4 linked regions of the Homo sapiens genome follow. The protein of the gene in region 4 interacts with the protein of the main gene of each other region in a biochemical or structural test. Each region holds a gene or a part of one and is shown on either strand. Other genes may lie near its edges.

What was found. The genes of interacting proteins can lie anywhere in the genome.
Region 1: the proteins of RIMS2 (region 4) and SLC15A5 interact in a test that uses a peptide from one of them, tested with the Homo sapiens proteins (one large-scale study listed by IntAct).
Region 2: the proteins of RIMS2 (region 4) and DOCK4 interact in a test that uses a peptide from one of them, tested with the Homo sapiens proteins (one large-scale study listed by IntAct).
Region 3: the proteins of RIMS2 (region 4) and PBK interact in a test that uses a peptide from one of them, tested with the Homo sapiens proteins (one large-scale study listed by IntAct).

Annotation. Positions count from the first base shown.
Region 1 is NC_000012.12:16,239,684-16,243,301, reverse strand, and holds part of SLC15A5 (solute carrier family 15 member 5), read left to right. Parts: intron 1-3,434; coding exon 3,435-3,618. UniProt on the Homo sapiens protein: Proton oligopeptide cotransporter.
Region 2 is NC_000007.14:111,730,898-111,734,515, forward strand, and holds part of DOCK4 (dedicator of cytokinesis protein 4), read right to left. Parts: intron 1,391-3,618; coding exon 1,329-1,390; intron 1-1,328. UniProt on the Homo sapiens protein: Functions as a guanine nucleotide exchange factor (GEF) that promotes the exchange of GDP to GTP, converting inactive GDP-bound small GTPases into their active GTP-bound form. Involved in regulation of adherens junction between cells.
Region 3 is NC_000008.11:27,820,816-27,824,433, forward strand, and holds part of PBK (lymphokine-activated killer T-cell-originated protein kinase), read right to left. Parts: intron 2,391-3,618; coding exon 2,248-2,390; intron 1,674-2,247; coding exon 1,504-1,673; intron 1-1,503. UniProt on the Homo sapiens protein: Phosphorylates MAP kinase p38. Seems to be active only in mitosis. May also play a role in the activation of lymphoid cells.
Region 4 is NC_000008.11:103,503,581-103,507,198, reverse strand, and holds part of RIMS2 (regulating synaptic membrane exocytosis protein 2), read right to left. Parts: intron 1-3,618. UniProt on the Homo sapiens protein: Rab effector involved in exocytosis. May act as scaffold protein. Plays a role in dendrite formation by melanocytes.

The sequences.
Region 1 (3,618 bases), on a different chromosome or scaffold from region 4:
GAGGCGGAGGTTGCGGTGAGCAGAGATCATGCCATTGTACTCCAGCCTGGGAAACAAGAATGAAACTCCATCTCAAAAAAAAAAAAAAGAGAAAAAGCAAAGAAAAATATATAAAATTTAAATTTTAGCGTCCATAAATGAAGTTTTATCAGAACATAGCCATGCTCTTTGTTTTGTCGTATCTATGTCTGCTTATGCACAAAAATAGCAGAGTTGAGTAATTGCCACGGAACCCATATGTGGACATATTTACTATCTGGCCCTTTACAGAAAATTTCTTGACCTCTAGACTAAATAATGCATGAAAGCTAGTCTGATTTAGAAGATTCAAACTCCCTCTTGACTCTATAATAGCAGTAGGCACAAAAACAGAATACAGCAGAAATATTACCCATATATGTAAGCATTAATATAATAAAACATCTTAGATTGGAGGAACCGATAAACAGTACAAAATTACTACATGGCCCATAGCTAACCTCAAAAGCTTATGTGCAAGTAGCACAGAATACCAGTTCCTTACCTTCATAATGCAATGACACCTGACATTTCTTTCCACTAAGTTGGACCCTTCTTTGCACACTGTCATATATTTTTTAATTGAACATAAATTACAATAAATTTTGATAAACTAATTTTTAAGCATATCACCAAATCTAGATGTGCAACTTATTGCAAAGCACAGAAACTAATAGTTACTGATCACCTATTAAGTGCCATAGCTTCTAAAAGATGGCTTCACAGTACGTAATTTAATCCCCACAGCAAGGCTACATGGCTATTACTCTCCTAAATCTGAGGCTCAGAAACTAAGTTGCAACTTGTTCCCAGTCACCTTGCTAATGTGTGGCAGAGCAACATCCCACCTCAGGATTAGTGTCAAGCGCCATGCTTTATTATCCTCAATATCACTCTTGCATTGGGTTAAAAGTCCCTGATACAAACTACATAGATTCCAAAATTATATACAGTAATGTTATGCTAGAAACTTCAAAGAAAATGCTTAGATCATACTTCACCAGGGAGGCAGAGGAATTTCCAATAGGATAGGCTGGGTTTAGTTTTTTGCCCCCAGATGAAATAATCACCAGTACAAAGGCAATCAAAGTACCAAGAATAAAACATCATAGAATTTCATACATATTTTAAATTTAGTAGCCATTATTGACCTTCAGTTGCAAGACATACATCTAAAATATGTTGATATTACGGCTGATGAGGTTGCCATTTGACATTACTGGCCAGTCAAAGGTGAGAATGAATCTCTATTGACAGCAATTATTTCTGAATACTCAAAGGCTTGGATGAAATAAAAGTATTTAAAATTTTACAGGGCGATGATTTCAGAACTTCAGGCAGAGGCAGAAATGATTTCAAGCTTTCAAGACACTGCAGCCTTTTCTAAGATTAGGCAATATATTAATATTGCTTCACTAAAGATTAATAGTACATTTGCCACATTATTAAGTTAACATATTTCTGTGTCTGTGATTCATGCCGATAATAACTTTATTCCTATTAACAATAATTCTCATTTGAAATCAGTAACAGAAACTTCCAAGTTGTGCTGGGAGCCTTTCAGTCTTAGAGTTGTTCCGCTGCCAGCACTTTTTGTTAAAACACATCATTCATTTTCCTCCGATGGGGGATCCATGCTTAATAATTTTATTGAAGTAGGGCAGAACTAACTAATGTTCCTTTAACTCTTGCCATCTGTACTCAGCCAAAACAATCCTTGTTTACTATGCTAAGGGTCAAATTAAAGATTGGGAGATAAATGATCACCAGGACACGTTGTCTACAGAAAGAATCTCAGTGAAAATGTGGTCTTGTCCTGTGTTTGCGCAGTTAACATGGCAATAGGCTCATTTTACAATTAGTGGACTTGGTAACAGCTGTACTGACACCATAATACTGATTCTCCATATATACCCTCTTGAATTGTACAATTGAGTCTAGAGAAGGGGTTAGCAAATGTTTCAAATGAGAAGTTATCATCTGGATATTTGAGCGAGGCTGCTCTCCCAGGATGGTGGTGAAGCAGGGATCCTAATGCAGCTCTTGTACCATACGAGTTTGGAGGATCCATTCCTCAAGAAGACTTGGTTGACTTTCTGTCTATGACACTCAATAGCTTTGTGTACCACTGGGAATTAAAGAAATACTATGCGCTACTAAAGATCATGATGGGCCGGGCACGGTGGCTCACACCTGTAATCCCAGCACTTTGAGAGGCTGAGGCAGGCAGATCACGAGGTCAGGAGATCGAGACCATCCTGACTAACACGGTGAAACCTCATCTCTACTAAAAATACAGAAAAATTAGCCAGGCGTGGTGGCGGGCGCCTGTAGTCTCAGCTACTCGGAAGGCTGAGGCAGGAGAATGGCGTGAACCTGGGAGGTGGAGCTTGCCGTGAGCCGAGATCACACCACTGCACTCCAGCCTGGGTGACAGAGCGAGACTCTGTCTCAAAAAAAATAAAAATAAAAAAGATCATGATGAAGCTGATGAAGCTGTAACAAAGCTCATGTACTAGAAAAGTGAAGAGACACCTCTTTCATGTGACATCATCCCTTGGTTCTGATATCACACTCGGTTGCCAAGAGGATTGGAATACACTAAGAGGCTCCAAATCAGTGTTAGAGTTTTAGTTAGCATTGGGGTTATTTTTAAAATGAAGAAATTCTAACAATACATTGAGGATTTGGGGTGGAGCACAGGGTTTTTTTTTAAAAAAATTGTATCTTTCACTTTATCATGCAAACCTTTTTCATGTTGTTTCCTTTATGGAATTCTAGCATCACGTAATTAGTTTGAAGGGAGGGCAAAGACACAAGGTTTTTTTTTCCTCCCCCTGTTACTTAGTTCACATTGGAAACAAAGCCTCTCTAAATAGCCCCCTCAAAGACAGCCTACAGCAATTAACACGTGTCCACATTGGGCCCCTCTTCTTAGGAAAAAGTCGTTTCTATATTGCCACCAAACTAGATGCTTTTTAAAGAATCTATTCTAGCCTCATTTTTTTCATCAGGGTAAAAACAGACGTCTTTAGTATTTTTTACTGGTTTTATATTAGTGTTCATGAAGAAAAGTCATTTTGCTTATCTACAGAATTTAAGTTATTTGGCTTTTTATGTGTCATCTTAAGCACAAAATTGGGGCCATCATTACTTTTCATAGAAAAATTAAGAGAGACTAAATGATGATAGAGTATTTCATGAGTAATGAGTACTATTGTCAATAGACTAGACAGAGCTCCTACCACCACAGATGAAGACCCTTTATCAGCTCATAACTGGGAACTTGAAAAACTAGGCAACATCCAGCTCATCCATCACAGAGTACGTGCAAGAGGGTAGGCCTCTGGTGGACGATGCTTTCTTCAAAGTTAAACCCCTGTCTTAATGCATGGATGTTTCCCTCTCGAATACAGATTCCTTCAGGATATTATCTGCAAACTATGAATTCCAACCTGAATTTGGATGGATTTCTTCTGCCGATTGCAGTAATGAATGCCATCAGCAGCCTACCATTACTAATTCTGGCTCCTTTTCTGGAGTATTTCAGCACCTGCCTGTTTCCCTCTAAGAGAGTTGGATCATTTCTGTCAACATGCA
Region 2 (3,618 bases), on a different chromosome or scaffold from region 4:
CTCTTGGGTTCTTTTTAATGTTTAAGAATTAATCTCTTAAGACTTATTTTCTTACTACCCAACAAAATTTAAGTTGAAAAATACAGATGATAATTCCATAGCAACGTGTGGGAGCTCTGTGTGAGTAAGGGCAAATGTAAAAGTGCGGAAAAGCCATGTTGCTTTCCTTTCTATCACATCGAGGTGACAGGCTATGACTTCCAGAGTGAATGCTGTCACAGGTACTTCATAATAACAGCTGCATTACAGAATGAGAACAAAACGAGCAAATCACTTGCACTTACCCGCGAATTTCTACGTCAGAAATTCTGGCAATGCAAGGGAATCACACTTCTTTCAATTTTCTCCATTTTGCGGGGGGAGGCGGGTTGTTTTCCCGTTTCTCAATTTCTATCAGCAACTATCGTTAGCACCACAGATGCACTGGATCGCAACCTGCCCCTATGTGTTTGTAGAGGCTAATTTGTCTTTTGCACATTAGCTAGAACTAGCTCATCACACAAAGGACATGGAGCGTGTAAATCCTAAGTCACTCAGGTACAAAATCATTCTTTCGACACACTTCATATTTGCCTCTGGTGCAGCAGTTCTGAACACCAATCTCTCACGTACTGACAATCCTTGAAGCCGGTCTGATTCAATTTGGATAAGACTAAATATTATTCTTTATCTTCATGAGGGATTTTTTATGTTTAAAGATGTTAAATAGCCCATGTCTACAAACCAATTCGAATGTCTGACCTTTACAGCTTTCCAGTTTGTTCCCTAGAAATCTTTTAAATCCATATTACTGCCTTGTTTTTCATGATCAAGTATGTATTTCTAATGTAAATGAGAAACTTGGTATAAAATATTAACAGAGAATGTTAGGTTTGGCTTTGACAAAATGGGTTTGGCTGACGATAAAGGCAAAAAGACACAGAATATTTAGTAGATCTTGATACTGATGTTTCTCAATCTAAGTGTGTGTGTGTGTGTTTGATGTACCTTAAACTAAAAGGCCAGGCTGAAAGTTTCCTAGGAGGTACATTAGGACCACATTCCTTTCCTAATTCAGTATATGCACTGACTTCAGTCTGCAAGTTCTCACTGCTACCATTTGGAGAATGAGGCTAATAATCGAAAAACAAATGGCTGCGTTTGTGCAGGAGGCACCCAGAAGGGAAAGTCCAGTGTTGTTTTTCTCAACCAGCTTCCCCTATCCCTGATTGATAAGTTCTTTGCCTGGTCCCTGCAAATTAAAGCACCTTTTGATATATCTGGGATGAGTCTTAGAGAAAAAGAAAACTGGGCCAGTCTCTAGCCTCAGTCGAAAGAAGGGCCTTTACCTTCAATGGAGATCGCCCGGCAGGCGAGGGGGATACTGATGTCGTGTGTCTTGCTGGTGAAGCTGTCAATGGGGAGAGAGATAACATTTCAATTAAGAAAAACCAGACGATTGACTATCTGCACATGCCCTCTGTGTTACAAACCCAAACAGATGATCCAGTGCATAAGGACCTTCTAAGCAAAGGGGGTGGTGAGGATGGGGGAGAAGCTAAATGATGCCTGTCTAGAATGGGTTCTCACAAAGGGTGGCACTGCCAAGATATGGGAGCATCAGTGAAAAGTTATCATGGCATATATGATGCTTTGACTATTGACAGGTTCCCAAACTGATCCAATGTCCTTTCCGTTTCCCCAAAGTCCAGGTGCTTCTGCACTGCTTGATCTGTCTCATAAGGTGCTTTTAGGTGTGAGATGCTAGGGAGCAGTTCTTGGGGAACAGCTGTTGACTTTGGCGTGAGCACCAATGGGAACACCATGGCCACCCCAGCAGCCTGGAACAGGTCTACGGGAACATATTTAATCAGCTCCCCCCAAACAACCCCAGTACTCCCCAAATAGGTAGAAAACCCTTGGCCATGGCCATACAACAGGTGCATGGTTTTCCATTTCTTCCCCTAATGCTTGTACTCAGGTCTTCCCATTATCCCCTGGTGGTGGGTCTCTATGGATTTCATCATCGTGGCCAAGAAGAGTGAACTGTTTGCTTTTTCTCACTAGATTTTCAAGTCCTACACCTGGAACACAGCATGTGTGATAGCACTGTTCCTGTGTGCATGCTTGTATAGCAAATCCAGCTCTCTAAAGCATAGCCCTGTATGGTAAAGGCTGGCGTGACACAGTCAACAGGGTGAGAGTCAGCCACATTTCTCAATTCCACAGAGACGTTTCGGTGAACTCTGGGTATGTCGCTCTGTGATTAGCTGCTACTCTCCCAGCTGTCACAGTGAGGTTTGCAACTCACAACTACTGAAAGGCTGTAAGAAAGAAAGACAGTTACAGAGCCCCACAACAGTGACCACAGATGATGACATAAGAACAGACCATGAGAGCAATCAGTGCAGAAGGGATGGCAGCCCTGCCAGTTAACTTGGGAGGGGTAAGGTCATCTGTGTGCTCTGGGTCCTAAGGGGTCAGTGAGAGTGCTCCATGATCACACTGGTAGTGTGCAGCCTCTCTCTTGCACTCTTGAATGCTGGGGCATGCTGTCAGCACGTGTCACATTCTAATACCAGCCTTAGTTCTCCTATCCTGTTGATCGTGGGTGCTGATTATGGAAGAAAATCACATCTGTATGGAGAAGCTGATCCTGACGGAGAACTATGTTCCTGCCTTAACGGTGGTAGAAAGTTGATTGTTCCCTAGGACCCTCTTCCTCCTGACTCAGGCAGTTGCTGACACCACCATGGTGGCCCCTGCAACCACAGCATATTTGCATCAATATTATTCCTTAAAAAATGCTTTTCAGGTTCTCAACTTTAGGGACACAACCAGGTTTAAATTGGAGACTGCCTGAATATATGTACATCGTGAATGAGATACAAATAGTTTGGCCGATAAGTTTTAGGCCTCTGTACACATACTGATATACTAATGCAGGTGATCAATAAGCTTAAAGTTATTTCTTGTTTTCTTTGAAGACCTCATATGTCTCTCAAAAATTATTGGTGACTTGACTTTTGGCTTTGACAAGTATAGAGTAAACTAGGTGGCACATAGTTTATTGTGTTTTGTGGCAAGGTCTCACTTTGTTGCCCAGGCTAGAGTGCAGTGGCTCAATCTTGGCTCACTGCAACCTCTGCTTCCTGGGCTCAAGCAATTCTCCCACCTAAGCCTCCCAACTAGCTAGGACTAGAGGTGTGTGCCACCATGCCTGGCTAATTTTTGCATTTTTTTTTGTAGAGATGGGGTTTTGCCATGTTGTACAGGCTTCTCTCAAAACTCCTGGGCTCAAGTGATCTGCCTGCCTTGGCCTCCCAAAGTGCTGGGATTACAGGTGTGAACTACCTTATTTGGCCCAGGCTGAAGTGCAGTGGTGCCATCTTGGTTCACTGCAACCTCTGACTTCTGGGCTCAAGCCATCCTCCCAAGTAGCTGGGACTACAGGTGTGTACCACCACACCTGGCTAATTTTTATATTTTTTGTAGAGACGGGGTTTTGTCATGCTGCCCAGGCTGGTCCCAAACTTGTGAGTTCAAGTGATCCACTCACCTTGGTCTCCCAAAATGCTGGTATTACAGGCATAAGCCAAAACACCTGGCCAAGATTTTGCTGCTTAAACGACCACCTGA
Region 3 (3,618 bases), about 76 Mb from region 4:
GTTTCAAAATTTTTTTTTTTTTTTTTAAAACGGAGTCTCACTCTGTTGCCCAGGCTGGCATGCAGTGGCACGATCTCGGCTCACTGCAACCTCCGCCTCCTGGGTTCAAGTGATTTTCCTGCCTCAGCCTCCCAAGTAGCTGGGACTACAGGCGGGCACCACCACACCTGGCTAATTTTTGTATTTTTAGTAAAGACGAGGTTTCACCATGTTGACCAGGCTGGTCTGTCTCGAACTCCTGGCTTCAAGTGATCCGCCTGCCTCAGTCTCCCAAAGTGCTGGGATTACAGGTATGAGCCACTGTGCCCAGCATTTCAAAGTATTTGAAACAAGAGAAGGGAACATCCCATGTTATCTCAGTCTGCCATACTGACCAGAAGTCTAAAAGTTTATTTAGAAATAGATACTTCTGCTAACCTTTTATACTTATAAAATAAATAATTATAAGTTAACTATTTTTTTCCAAGACAGAGTCTTGCTCTTGTTGCCCAGGCTGGAGTGCAGTGGCGCGATCTTGGCTCACTGCAACATCTGCCTTCCAAGTTCAAGCGATTCTCCTGCCTCAGCCTCCCGAGTAGCTGGGATTACAGGTGCCGCCACCATGCCCGGCTCATTTTTGTATTTTTAGTAGAGATGGGGTTTCACTATGTTGGCCAGGCTGATCTCAAATTCCTGCCCTCGTGATCTGCCTGCCTTGGCCTCCCAAAGTGCTGGGATTACAGGCGTGAGCCACCACACCCAGCCAAGTTAACTATTTTTATATATAAGTATGTATATATACCGACAGCTTATAAGTTAACTATACTTATAAATTGGTTAACTTGGTAAGTTAACTAATCCTACATACTTTATATCAGAAGATACAACTGCAGATTTCAAAAGATACCACAATTTTGAGGCTAGTCTAGTAATTTTTAGAAATAATTTTGGAATCTTCAGTGAAGCATACATAAATTGTTGAGACCATGTGGGACAATGAATGACTAGGGCCACATGTACGTATAAGGATGTTTTGGTCAATGATGGACAACATATACGACGGTGGTCCCATAAGATTATAATATCATATTTTGATTTTACCTTTTCTATGTTTTGATATGTTTAGTCACACAGTACTTACCACTGTGTTACAACTGCCTATAGTATTCAGTACAGTAACATTCTATACAGGTTTGTGGCCTAGGAGAACTGGGCTATATATACCACATAGCCCAGGTGTGTAGTTGGCTCTACCATCTAGGTGTGTGTAAGTACACTCTATGATGTCCGCACGCACAGTGATGAAACTGCCAAATGACACATTTCTCAGAACATATTAAGCTACACATGAATGTAATTTGGAAGCAGAAATGTAAGCCTCTATTTTGTTTTCCGCTAACCCCTTTTTGGAACTGACAAGTAACAATATCCATCCACATTCAAAGATGTCCTGCAAAGTGATTATTTGTTCATTTAAAATATGAACAAAAACAGAAGTCATTTAAAATATAATGACATAGTTACCTTTAACCCTCTTGCCATATTCAAAGCAACTTTTAAAATTATGGCTGCTGGAAAAGGATCTTGGCTGGCTTTATATCGTTCTTCTATTAAGTCATTTAGAGACTTTTCACCTCCATATTCCATAGCAAGACACAGACTGCCATCATTGGCTTCAGTAAAAGCACGATAACCTTAAAGAAAACATGACATTTCTTCACTAATATAGAGAAGAACAATAATATTTAAGTCCTTTATAGTAACGTGATTGAAAATATGGATCTGGACTAACGCTGACAAATATACAATGAAACAGCTACTATTTACAAGACTAATTCAGTAGATCTCATTTAAAATGCCTTCAGTGTTTGCCAGTAGTACCACAAATTAAAATACTTTTATTTTCCTTTGCTTCCCTAAATATAATAGTTTCACCAGCCCTACTTGTATTAAAAATGAAAAATGAAATCCAGGAAATTACCTAAATGGATTTAAATTATCTAAATGAAGATCATTTTATATTCTTAAAATCTTCATAGAACTAGCAACATAATTATTATATCTGTTCTCATGAAGTTTATATACTTAGGCATCAAAAAATACTATATGCAAATTTTTATTTTAGACCAATCACATTAATTTGATACCCATTAAATATCCAGCCCCATCCTCTTCATTTCTATTAGTGAAACCAGTTAAGAGAGCATATAAGCTGTTTCTGAATAAACAAAATAATATACCAGATACTGCTACCAAATTTAAACGTACCAACAATGTTTGGATGATGAAGGCTTTTCAAAATCTTAGCTTCATCCATTAGTCTCTTTTGATACACACTTCGATAATGATCATTACATATAGGATTAATCTTTTTTACAGCCCAAGGAGAATGAGACAAACCTCTTGGAGATCTAAGAAAAAAATTCATTTAAAAAGGATAGAAAACAATAAAACCACAATACTTTTTAAAATGACTTCCAAATTTTTGGGAAAAAGCTTGAAAGAAATTTGCTTTTAAAAACAGAATTTAAAATAGTTTGGACTATGAACACCTCTGCTACATTTCCATTTCAATTGGGAGGTAAGATCTAATATACTAAAACAAGTCTTACTATCTATACTGTGGAAGGGAGAGGATGAAAAGAATTTGAAGGGTAAAGATGGAATGTTACAAACTTTAAACCTGAAAATTGTAACTTTCCAATTTTTCCATTTGAGCATGTTGGACTACAACTTATTAAATATTTAATTATATGTATCAGAGATGAGTTATAGGATCCTGAAGAAAAAAACATTAGGAAATTTAAAGAAGAGATAATCAAGAACATTTTACCCATATATCATCATCCAAAGAACAGCATGCTGTTCTTATTGCTCCCCTACACTGACCAATTCACCTTATACCTTTTACCACATGCTCAAAGATATGTGCTTAAGGAGATAATGATGAACATACAAATGAGAAAATTTTAAACTTTCTATTTTCTAGGAAGATTCAGCCATTTTACAAATATTTAAGGTATAAATGTTTTAAGGCCTAAATAGGTAAAATAAAGTCAGGGAAAGGTTTACCTGAGGTGGTAGATATTTATGAGTAGAGCAAATCACAAAATACTTAAGTATATGCAGCATAACAGCACAAAACCTAGTGAAAGAGCCTCAGAAGTTTAAGACAGAAAGTTTAATGGTAAGAACACAAAACAAGAGATTGAATCAAAGATCTGTTTAGCTTTGGACTCCCTCACAGGTATAGCTCTAAGACTGCAGAACCTTTTTTGTTTAATCAAAAAGCCTATACTAAAAGGATCACAAGATTTCTTAATTCATGTACATCTATCATCCGTAAGTTGATCTAAACTATTCTTAAACCTCCAGTTTTAAATAACAGCAGCATTTGAGGATAATGATGAGCACCTGCATATCATTTTATTATGAAAAATATATTTTTCAAATTTCAAGGGTTGAAAGTTTAGCTCTTGAAAGTTTAGAATTTAGTAAACAAGTCAATCTTCACCTTTTCCATAACATATTCTAATCTATCGAATAAGAATAGATTTATGAAATCTGAATACTCAACCATGCAAAAAGCTGGTTCATTAAAAAGACTAATAGAAAAAAGGCAAATTTCTGATGAGATTA
Region 4 (3,618 bases):
AGCTAAGCCAGAAGGATGAGAAACCGGCAATCATACAAAGCTTAAGTGTATTTGAGGGGCGATGTGAAGATCAGCATTCTAAGCTCAATAACCATACTTCAGAATTAGCTTAACCTAATACGGTTCTCTGGGTTCTTAGATACAATGTGAATAAGACAAATAGGTAAATATAGATTTTAGTTAAATAATAGAGTAAAAAGTTTAACCAAGGCAAATCTAAAGTCAATTACAAAGTAGTTTCCACAAGTAAGTCCCCTCAATTCACCTTTGACTATCAGTATCTTGCCGATTACCAATAACTTGATGTCAGTGCTATTTTCACTGCTATGTCTTAGTTATCAGGCTCCTTAAGAATGGTATTTGCTGAGGAAACTATTTTCAAGTTGTCACCCACCCTCTCCCCATCCCTAGTCTTCTAAACAAATAATGAAGTCGCTTAAAAGCCCTCCTGGCATATTTTGACTTCATAATAGACAAGGAAAAGAATCTCTCAATTTTTAGAAAATAAGAAAATTTCACCCAGCAATCCTATGATAAGGTTTAAAGAGTGCTATCTATGTCAGTTAACAATAATGATTATTTATTGCACCACTACTTATGCCAGGATACTTAGTCTATAACAATCACAATCCTTCAAAATAGGTGTTATTACTCAAATAGTATAGATGAGGAAACTCAGAGTTTAATAATAACAATCACAATCCTTCAAAATAGGTGTTATTACTCAAATAGTATAGATGAGGAAACTCAGAGTTTAATAATATAAGCAAAACGTTACCATTATTAATTAGTAAAGTAAGGTGTCAAGTCAAAGTTCATCTGGTTTATCACACTTGCTTCCACTATCTCTTTCTTCATCGCACAATATAATTAGTTCTTTATCAAAATCTATTGTCAAGAGGAAGATATTATTTAATTGCCCTTATTTCAAAATAGAATATATATAAATTTATTGGGTACTCTTTCATAAAATATAAGTCAATTTTTTGTTTGCTTGTTTTCTTATAAAATGTCAATCAATTTTTTAGAATGCATTTTGAATCCTTAAAAACTATAGTTTTTCATTTTTTTGGCAATGGCAACAGTGGTTTACATATGCAATTTTTATTTAAAAGTATTCATGATTCAATTGGTACTTTTTAAAAATACTAGAATAGGGAAGATCATTCTAAGAAGATCACAAACTCAAAATCCATAAAACAAAACTACAATAAATTCAATTTTTTTAAATCGTGACCAGTAAAAAAGGCATAAACAAGGTCCTAAAACAAATAACATGTAAGAGAGCCTCCACAAATCACTAAAAATTACTAATAGAAAAGGGAATACAAATGGCTGTAACCAAATTTTTTTAAAAAGGCTCTCAATCTTTCTGACAAGAAAATTGCAAATAAGTCTACAGTGGCATCTTTTTCATTGAAACATTGGTAAAGATTGCCATACACTGAGTTGGCGAGGATGTGGGAAAGTCCCCTTAGTACACACCACTTATACACACTTCCTCTACAAAAGTAAATTTCACAATATTTATTAAATTTAAAATATACTAACCCTTTGGCCCAACAACTTTGTTTCTAGGAATCTGTCTCAAATATACATTCATACATGTAGGAAATGCATGTACGAAGATATTTATCACAGATAATACTGTGATAAATACTAAAAATTTCTAATGACAAAATACTTAGAAAAAAACTTAAATACCCACAAATATGGTACTAGTTAAAGAAATTACAGAATATTCATTAAAAGGGATAGTATATATCCTATATCCATTAAGGTTAACGAGGCAGCTATACAGTCACAGATGTGGAACTGACCTCTTATAAAGCAAACTGCAGGACACATTTCTGTTTTTACGTTTACATCCATCCATACATACATGTATGAGCACACACATACACACATATACAGACACACACAATATTATATATACACATGTATTTATTCTTATGCATAGACTGTCTCTAGAAGAGTATACAATATAAAATATACTAGTAACAGTAGTTGGCTCTGGGTAGGGGAAATAGGTAGCTAAGAAATTTGGGGGCTGCGGGTTGCTCACACCTGTAATCCCAACACTTTGAGAGGCCAAGGCAGGAGGATCACTTGAGCCCAGGAGTTCAAGACCAGCCTGGGCAACATAGGGAGACCTCATCTCTACAAGAATAAAAAATAAATTAGTCGAGTGTCATGACACCTGCCTGTGGTCCCAGTTACTCCAGAGGCTGAGGTGAGAGAATCGCTTGAGCCCAGGAGGTCGTGGCTGCAGTGAGCCGTTATTTCGCCATCTCACTCCAGCCTGGGCCTCAAACCAAGAAAGACCCTATCTCAAAAAAAAAAAAAAAAAAAGAAAGAAAGAAAAGAAAAGAAAGAAAAAAAAAGATTTTATTTCAAAATTTTATAAATTAACTTTAGAAAATACTTTTAAAATTGAATTATTTTAAAAAATAGAGAACTGCTCACTATATATGTGCTAAATATATACTAATTGTTATCCTAACCTATCAGGAAAATTTTTACTTATTGCCTTCCTTTATTTGGGAAGCAAATTAACCCTTTAACAGAAAATCTAAACTATGAATGAAAATATACACATCAAGAAACACATAATTTCTAATTTGTGTTACAAAAAGCTTATCTGAAAGGCTATGATATGTACATATTAGAAACTCAGTATTTACTGAATACTTTTCTATTGATTTAGTGGGTTTGCTTTCCTCAGACATTTTTTCACAATTACACAAAAACCCACTGGAAATTCAACTTTTAATAAATTATGTTTTTCTTTCAAACAATGATTCCTCATTGTCCCACAAAATTGATAAGCTACCTCATTAACATTACCACAATTTAAATAAACACAATTTATTAAGTACTTATTACGTGCAGGTGTTAAGGATGCTGCAAAACACAAACTCAAAAAAAGGGTAAATTTTGATTCTTGCCCTCAAGAAGTTTACAATCTTGAAAGACAAGACTTAAAAACATTAATCATTCAGATGTCTTGGAAGATTGAAAAAAAAACATTAGTCAGTAAAAGGACATTATAAATTTTACTGATAAATTGAATTAGCCAAATTTAAACTGCTACAGCAATACATGAAAGGATTCTTTAAAGTAATTACTGATTAGGGTTCTACTGAGATTTTTAAATGCTTCCAAAATTATAGTACCTCGCTCATATGTAAAATGGTATTATTTGATGATGATAGACTTCCTATGTGGATGTTCAGCTGGACTTTGAGGAAATTACTAATAATTAGGAATAGCTTTTAATTATTCAGGCTCCTAAGGTGAGAGATAACAGTAATGGTCTCAGTTTTGATCACTCAGTTCTCTTATTAAAAATATCTCAAGCATGAATCTTTCACTACATGCATATTTAAAATTATATGCATCTAGGTATTGTCATCTATATATTAAATATTAATAAGGTTCAAATTCCTTCTTTCTCTCCACTTTGCATGAATACTTAATATGAACATTGAAACTCACAGATCATGCAAAAATATTTTTATCTAACCATTGCAGTATCTTCACACATCAAATGTATTTTTTAACATAAATGTTAAAAGGCAGCAGACATGCATTTAAATTTCAGTTTATTTTTCTCTC